2 separate regions of the Homo sapiens genome follow, and region 1 is linked to region 2. Evidence: fine-mapped expression QTL. A gene starts in region 2. The other region holds a variant in brackets. All regions are shown on one strand. Distances are from middle to middle.

Region 1 (4,387 bases), 53 kb after region 2:
ACTAAAAATACAAAAATTGGCTGGGCATGGTGGCTCACGCCTGTAATCCCAGCACTTTGGGAGGCCGAGGAGGGTGGATCATGAGATCAGGGGTTCAAGATCAGCCTGGCCAAGATGGTGAAACCCTGTCTCTACTAAAAATACAAAAATTAGCTGGGCGTGGTGCAGACACCTGTAATCCCAGCTACTTGGGAGGCTGAGGCAGGAGAGTTGCTTGAACCTGGGGGAGGAGGTTGCAGTGAGCCAAGATGGCGCCACTGCACTCTAGCCTGGGTGACAGAGTGAGATTCTGTCTCCAAAAAAAAAAAAAAAAAAATTAGCCGGGCGTGGTGATGCATGCCTGTGGTCCCAGCTGCTCAGGAGGCTGAGGTGGGAGGATCACCTGAGCACAGGTGGTAGAGGTTGCAGTGAGCCAAGATCATGCCACTGCATTCCAGCCTGGGCATCAGAATGAGAGCCTGTCTCAAAAAAATAAATAAATAAATAAATAAAAATAAAAATAAATGAAAAATAAAGGGGAAAGGGCCAGGCGTGGTGGGTGGCTCACTCTTGTAATCCCAGCACTTTGGGAGGCCTAGGCTGGCAGATCACTTGAGGTCAGGAGTTCAAGACCAGCCTGGCCAACATGGTGATACCCCATCTCTACTAAAAATACAAAAATTAGACGGTCATGGTGGTACACGCCTGTAATTCTAGCTACTCAGGAGGCTGAGGTGCGAGAGTTGTTTGAACCTGGGAGGCAGCAGTTGCAGTGAGCCAAGATTGCACTACTGCACTCCAGCCAGGGCGACAGAGGAAGACTCCATCTCAAAAAATAATAATAACAATAAATAAATAAAAAATAAATAAAGGGGAAAGGGCAAGCAGGAGGGGAAGAAAAAAAAACAAGGTGGGTAGGCAATGAGGCACCTGGTTACATTCTTATGAGACTGTGAATCTACATTTTACATGTGAAAAGAAAGGGGAAGGGGAGGGAGTCAACTATGCATTCCTCCCCTGCTCAGTAAATCTACATTTTACATAAGGTAAAGTAAGCAAGTGAAATTACAGCTATCTGTTTGAGAATGAAAGGAAAGCAGTTTTTGCATGACTCAGTTCCCAAGCTTAACTTTCCCTTTGGCATAGTGAGTTGGAGTTCCATTTTTCTTTCACGCTAGGTATCTACCCAAGAGAAATGAGACGTATGTACGCATAAAACTCCTACACGAGTGTTCACAGCAGCATTATTCATAATAGCCCCAAATTGGAAACAACCCAATTGTCTACTGAGAAAAGAAAAATAGCTCAGAGCAGGCCCAGAGAGACATGAATAGGGACTTCAGTCATCATCTCCCCAGCCCCCACCGCATGCCTGGGGACAATTGTTTAAAGTCACTTTGTTCCTGACTAGCTGGCTCACCTATTATCTTCATGTACCTGGGATTTGTGATATAAAGACAAATTTTTACTTTAAAAATCCACTTGTAGGCCTGGCACGGTGGCTCACGCATGTAATCCCAGCAGTTTGGGAAGCCTAGGCAGGTGGATCACTTGAGGCCAGGACTTCCAGACTAACCTGGCCAAACATGGCAAAACCCCGTCTCTACTCAAAATACAAAAGTTAAAAACAAACAAACAAACAAAAGTTAGCTGGGCATGGTGGCGTGTGCCTGTAATCGCAGCTACTCAGGAGGCTGAGTCAGGAGAATCTCTTGAACCTGGGAGGGAGGTGGAGGTTGCAGTGAGCTGAGATCACGCCACTGCACTCCAGCCTGGGCAACAGAGCAAAACTTGGTCTCCAAAAAAAAAAAAAAAATCCACTTGTAACTGCTGCTAGGCAGAATGTTATGTTCAGGGCAACCTGAATCTGTGCTCTCAGATAACAATTTTAAAGCTTGGCCCAAATAAACTCTCTACGTATATTCATTTTGCCCCAGCTTCTTCCTTTTAGGTTGACACCATCAAGTGACAAATGGATAAACAAAATGTGGTATATCCAAACAGTAGAATATGATTCATCAGTGAAAAGGAATGAAGTATTGATACATGCCATAACACTGGCGAAACTTGAAGACCTGTTAGTTAAGTTTATGGATACAAAGGTCACATATTATATATTGTATGATTCCATTTATATAAAATGTCCAGAATAGGCCGGGCACAGTGGCTCACACCTATAATCCCAGCTACTTGGGAGGCTGAGGCAGGAGAATCACTTGAACCCGGGAGGTGGAGGTTGCAGTGAGCCGAGACGGTGCCATTGCACTCCAGCCTGGGAGACAGAGCTAGACTCCGTCTCAAAAAACTAAAAAGATAAATAAAAAATAAAAAACAAAAATCCAGGAGCATTG[C/T]GGCAGGGGATATGGAGCCAAAGGCCATTGCGACGACATGAAGAAAGTAGAGTTTGAGAAGGAATAGCCTGGCATTTATGGAAAAATGTCTCAGAAGCAATGACTAGCAATAAAAGGCTGATTGAGAAACTGGGGCAGGAATCCAGAAATGAAATGATGAGGGTCTAGGCCAAAGCCTTGACAGGGAACTGGAGAGAGAAGATCCAATTTACAGTCTAAAGAGGAAACTGGCACCAGATTACATGGTCACATTAGTGAACCAAACTAGGGCCCACTTGCCTGGAGCAGCAAAGCCAAACACTGACATCGGGATAGCAGCGAAAGTGAGACATTTATTGCAGGACACCAAGCCAGGAGAATTGGCCAGCTAATGCTTGAGACTGGAACTCCATGATGACTTACAGGTAAGGGTTTTTAAAGGCAAAGAGGTAGAGGTTACAGGCAAAGTCATAAATCAAGGCAGGACATCCTCAAGTCCCGGGATTGTGGGGGTGGGGGCACAGGTCGTAGGTGGATTCAGAGATTTTCTTTTTTTTTTTTTTTTTTTTTTTTTTGATACAGAGTCTCCGTCTGTTGCCCAGGCTAGAGTGCAGTGGCACGTTCTCGGCTCACTGCAACCTCCGCCTCCCGGGTTCAAGTGATTCTCGTGCCTCAACCTCCCGAGCAGCTGGGATTACAGGTCCGCGCCATCATGCCTGTCTAATTTTTGTATTTTTAGTAGAGACGGAGGTTTCACCATGTTGGCCAGGCTGGTCTCGAACTCCTGACCTCAAGTGATCTGCCCGCCTCGGCCTCCCAAAGTGCTAGGATTATAGGCGTGAGCCACCGGGCCCAGCCAGGATTCAGAGATTTTCTGATTAACGATTAGTTAAGGAGGTGAAGCTTTGTCTAAAACTTTGAGATCAACAGAAAGGAATGTTCACTCTTGCTTGTGGACATGACCTCCTCTGGGCCCCTCAAAAAGAAATTTAGAGCAGAGGTCAGAGTTCAACCTTCAGTTCCCCGTTATCTGAGGTTTACATGCCAGCTGATCCTTGTGATGGGGGCCCGAGGTTCCGAAAAACAACTCAGGGACATATATCAAGATGTTATCTTCAATTTCTTTTTTCTTTTTCTTTTCTTTTCCTTTATTTTATTTTATTTTTTATTTTATTTTTTGTGACTAGATCTTGCTCTATTACCCAGGCTGGAGTGCAGTGGCGCAATTTCGGGTCACTGCTATCTCCACCTCCGGGGCTCAAGCCATCCTCCCACCTCAGCCTCCTGAGTAGCTGGCACTACAGGCATGGGCTATGTGATCTTTCTGTGCTTTAATCTTCCCAGTTGTAAAAATTAAAGAACAGTAGTGACTACCTCCTAGGTTGTCCTGACAGTAACCGAGAAAATCCATGTGGAACAGCAGAAACACTAAGAAGAATGCAAATGTGCTTTCCTCTCTTGTATTTCCATACAGACGACCTTTTCCCTGGGCAGCCTGTAGCCATCTGCTTGGGAGCAGGGAAGGTTTTTCCAAAGTTCTTGAGCAAATTAAATATAAATCCTAAAGATCTCAGATCACAATGTCTCTTCCATGAGAGAAAGAAGATACCCCTATGCCAACCTCAGTCAAGCCGTGAGACTTGTTGCCTTTTAGTAGGAGGATATGACCTGCAGAAACTGAAAGCCCAAAAGTCGTCCCTTCCGGTTCCCAGGACTTGTAGGCAGAAACATGGAGGCAGGACCAGGAGAGGTGTGGCAGTGGGTCCCAAGGTCACTCTTCTGGGCATATGGCCAGAGAAAGGGTAGAAAGTTGGGTAAATTGAAAGAGAAACCAGAAGCCAAGGTCTCTGGCTAGATTCAAATCTGGGACCCTGAGAGGAGATTGTGTCCCACACTGCCACCCCCCCCCACCCCCCAACCTGGGGGCCACATGGAACATCTTGGAGGTGCAGGACAGAGAGAGGAGGGCGGGGGTGCTGCTGTCCAGAGTTGCCCTGTGGTACTGCGTGGCCTGGACAGAAAGTTCTGTTCTGGCTGGATTTCAGCAAAGAGGGAGTCAGGCTACAGGTAGATATTGA
Region 2 (4,387 bases):
TGTGTTTGTAGGTTTACATAAACAATTTAGGTTTTGTTATTTCAGTATAGGTAAAGGGGGCGTTAGAAAATACTCGTTATGAAAAGGAGTTGGGTCTTTCACAGGGTTATGGAATGTAGCAGACTCCTTTTATAGATGAGCAAATTGAGACCCAAAGCCGTTAAACAACTTGCCCCCGACAGTGTGATATTCTCTCCCTATCTCGTTCGAATTTCCGTCTCGATTTTAAAAATTGAGAAGGGAGAGAAGTTATGTGTATAGTAAATTATGTGATGAGCACGAACTATTTGAATTCTGGCAGCAGAAGACCTTTTGTGGGGGTGGTGGAAACCACTGCGTTTTATTTAATTTCGTAGGGCTGAGGGTCAGAAGAGAGGGGAAAGCGGTCATAAGAAACTACGGATGTGCGGGCGCCGGCTCAAAGCCGGGAATCCACTAGTAAACACCTTCTTCTATTTAAGGGCCTGCGGCACCGAAGCCGGGACTTGGGGTGGCCTGCCTAGGAGGGAACCACAGGAAGAGGTTCCACCGACGGTAGAAACCCGGTTCCTCCTGTTCCTCATCCACCGCAGCGGCCTGAGAGTCACCCCGAGCCCAGGCCGGTAACCCCGCTGCAGCCCCTCCGGCAGGCCCAGGTTGCACCGGCTACAAACATTCCCGACACCCTTGGGCCCTAGAAGAGCCGTTCGCCACCCGCGGGGTCCCCGCAACGCCGGTGGTCACCGGCCCTAAGCCGCTGGGCGCCCCGCGGGAGGAAACTAGGGGCAAATGTAGCCCGCATTCCTGCGGAGAGCCGGGGTCCCGGGAGGGCGCGCCAGCGGCGGTTCCGGATCAGCGCGTGTCTGTCTCATTGTTCCCTCACCGCGGGGGGCGGGGGCGGAGGCGCGCGCGCACACGTCGGGGGGTTGGCCAGGAGGGGCCATTGTGTGTTTCTAGGCGGCGCCCCCGCTGCCTAGGCAACCGCGCAGGAAGGTGTCCGGCCACCTGCGCGCGCCGCCGGCTCCCCTCCATTTCCCCCCGACTCCCGCCCCGGTCACCATCCTACCCTCCTCCCTCCTCCTTTCCCCTTACTCCGCTCCCCTCTTTTCCCTCCCTCTCCTCCCCTTCCCTCTGTTCTCTCCTCCTCTTCCCCTCCCCTCCCCCGTCCGGAGCACTCTATATTCAAGCCACCGTTTCCTGCTTCACAAAATGGCCACCGCACGCGACACCTACGGTCACGTGGCCTGCCGCCCTCTCAGTTTCGGGAATCTGCCTAGCTCCCACTAAGGGGAGGCTACCCGCGGAAGAGCGAGGGCAGATTAGACCGGAGAAATCCCACCACATCTCCAAGCCCGGGAACTGAGAGAGGAAGAAGAGTGAAGGCCAGTGTTAGGAAAAAAAAAACAAAAACAAAAAAAACGAAAAACGAAAGCTGAGTGCATAGAGTTGGAAAGGGGAGCGAATGCGTAAGGTTGGAAAGGGGGGCGAAGAGGCCTAGGTTAACATTTTCAGGCGTCTTAGCCGGTGGAAAGCGGGAGACGCAAGTTCTCGCGAGATCTCGAGAACTCCGAGGCTGAGACTAGGGTTTTAGCGGAGAGCACGGGAAGTGTAGCTCGAGAGAACTGGGACAGCATTTCGCACCCTAAGCTCCAAGGCAGGACTGCTAGGGGCGACAGGACTAAGTAGGAAATCCCTTGAGCTTAGACCTGAGGGAGCGCGCAGTAGCCGGGCAGAAGTCGCCGCGACAGGGAATTGCGGTGTGAGAGGGAGGGCACACGTTGTACGTGCTGACGTAGCCGGCTTTCCAGCGGGTATATTAGATCCGTGGCCGCGCGGTGCGCTCCAGAGCCGCAGTTCTCCCGTGAGAGGGCCTTCGCGGTGGAACAAACACTCGCTTAGCAGCGGAAGACTCCGAGTTCTCGGTACTCTTCAGGGATGAGTCATGTGGCAGTGGAAAATGCGCTCGGGCTGGACCAGCAGGTGAGCCGCAAGAACCCCACCGGGCTGGCTGCTGCGTGAATTCCTCCCCTGACCTAACCTGGCTAATGGCGCAGCGCTAACCGGCACCCTTACTTTTCATTTTCTGGGTGCCCCGGGCTGGCGGGTGTGAGTGCCCCGGGGCTATAGAGGGATAGGAATGTTGGTTGGGGCTGTCGCCCGGGCCCGGTCTCGGCCCGCTGTATTGTCCCCGGGACGAGCACAATGGCGGCTTTTGTGTGTGCGTGCGCAGGCGGGCGGAGGGGGAGGAAGTGCGCGCGCTCTCGCGGGGACGCGCATGCGCGAATCCCGACTGATTAGTGACCTGGGGGGGTTTGCGGGAGTGCGCAGCGCGGCGGGACGCGACTGGAGGCCCTTTTGGCTTGGAGGGCTTCGGCCTTCACGGCTGGCGCAGCCTGGATTCCCGTCCGGAGGACCTGGCGGCACCCGGTGTTTGCGTGCCTGCGAGCAAGGGGTAGAACGCGGCCCAGGAATGTGGGAGGGGGCGGCCTTCGCTCGGGGTAATGGCGGCGGCCTCTTTTGTGTGGTGCTGGGCGGCGCTGTGGCTCACCTCCGGGAGACGGCGGGTCTCGGGCGGGCGAAGGCCTGGAAAGGAGGATGGAATGGGTTTCTTGTTTTTTCCCGGGTTCCTTCCGCTGGCTTTTTCGCTTCAGCCCAGGTTCCGCAGGGTCCGGGGGCCCTGCGCCGCAGCCGGGGAGGCTGCGTTTCCGGAGTGGAAAGTTTTGTGACGCAGAAGATTGGGGAGGAGTGGGGGAGGGGTGGGGGCGGGGAGGGGAGGCAGGAATTGGCCGCTGCGCGCTGGGCCCTGGAGATAGAGGTTGGACGTGGCGGGGAGGTTAGGGAGCCAGCGAGGCCCTTTCTCCTCCTTGCTTGCCCCAGATTGTCCCTGTGTGGTATGTTAGCCGGGAGTCCCGCGTTGTTTTTCTGGGGTGGAGGGGTCATCGCGGGTTGTGGTAGTGTCTTCGTGTTAGTGACTGTGATCCAGGAATCCGCCATTGGAAAAACACCCGGCTTAGGGGGGAAGTAAACAGTTTTGTTGTTGACTTGTTGCTATCTGTGGAGTAGAATCTTGCAATGGGTCCCAGGCCCCCGGGTTTTTTCTCTTAGCCAGAATCCCCTCTTCTAAGGGTTTAGGGGCAGAGGAGAGAAAGATGTGTGATTTGAGAGGAGAAGGTTATGGACTTTGGTGGCAGGAAGTCTGCATCCCACCGCAACAGTGGCACCAGGCTTCAGATAAGCTCTTGTGTGGGTTATGCGGAGCTTTTAAATAAACTACTGTCTACTGTGATTAGGGGAGCGTTGATTTCACAAACTCCGGAATAATCCTGAGACGAAGTTTAGTGGCACAAATTAATTGAATACATAGTTTAATGTAGTCATATGTAATATTTTTTAGGAATTGATCTGTTCCTTTGGAAGCATTTTCTACCCGTTAATGAACCAATTATATTAAATCCTCTAATTGCTGACACATGTTGAATTGAACAGACACTTTAACAACCTACCAGCAGCACAGAGTATTCCCAGTTTTACCATTTTCCATTTAGCTATAGTGTCCTTTTAAGGATTCTAGGCAACAGTGAACCTTATTTAAAAAGCAAAATTGTGCTATAACAAGTGCAAAAGGAAAGTTTGTGTTCCTACCGTGCTTTAAAGTATTGATGGTAGCAAGAGAAAGCGCAGTGGTGTTTTTGCTCATAGAAATTCTGGAAATTAGGTGCCTGAAGTCTTACACTCATTTTTTAAAAGTATAGCATCTGCTTCCAGTTTTCAGTGACTCCATTGATGATGCATGCGGTTTGGCCGTATCATACTGAGCTTTAAACACAAGATTTATAAACATGGTATGTAGTGCATCTTTTGCAAACAGGTTGGCAGCGGTACTGTGTGACTTGGTCTTTTGTGGCTTTTTTGAGAAAAATGAAACACTTTGCATGTATAGTTTTTTCTCCCAACTACTTGTGAGTAGTTCCTGGTTATAAAACGTTATGAAGGTAGCACATAACCCTTTTCTAGAATGAAGAGGCTTTTGAGCTACCAGTGTAAGGGGATAGGTAGAAATAGAGATGAAAGGCACTAAGATGTCCTACTCTTTAAGAGCATTGAACGCCAGTTGTGCCATTTATTCAAAGTCATCTTTGAACTTATGTTAAAATGGGGTAAAAACAGGTAACTACTTCAGGCCGGGCTCATGCTTGTAATCCCAGTGCTTTGGGAGGCCAAGGCAGGTGGTTCACCTGACCTGAGGTCAGGAGACCAGCCTGGGCAACATGGCGAAACCCCATCTCTACTAAAAGTACAAAAAGTAGCCTAGCGTGGTGGCGCACCCCTGTAATCCCAGCTACTCGGGGAGGTGGAGGTTGCAGTGAGCCGAGATCACATGACTGAATTCCAGCCTGGATGACAGAGG

What was found. PIP is the estimated chance that this variant, and not a neighbour inherited with it, causes the effect.
Region 1: its variant is fine-mapped to the expression of DDX3X in whole blood (TOPMed, PIP 0.98).

What each region holds. Positions count from the first base shown.
Region 1 is chrX:41,385,444-41,389,830 of GRCh38, forward strand. No RefSeq gene overlaps it. Among named protein-coding and RNA genes, the nearest start is that of DDX3X, 53 kb to the left of the region's middle. RefSeq lists an enhancer at 60-577. The variant C/T (reference allele first, on the strand shown) is at 2,331.
Region 2 is chrX:41,332,339-41,336,725 of GRCh38, forward strand. It overlaps DDX3X (DEAD-box helicase 3 X-linked), which reads left to right and starts at 1,824. Exons shown (of 17, transcript NM_001356.5): 1 at 1,824-1,959. The coding sequence starts at 1,915. RefSeq lists a silencer at 645-1,134 and an enhancer at 1,225-1,454.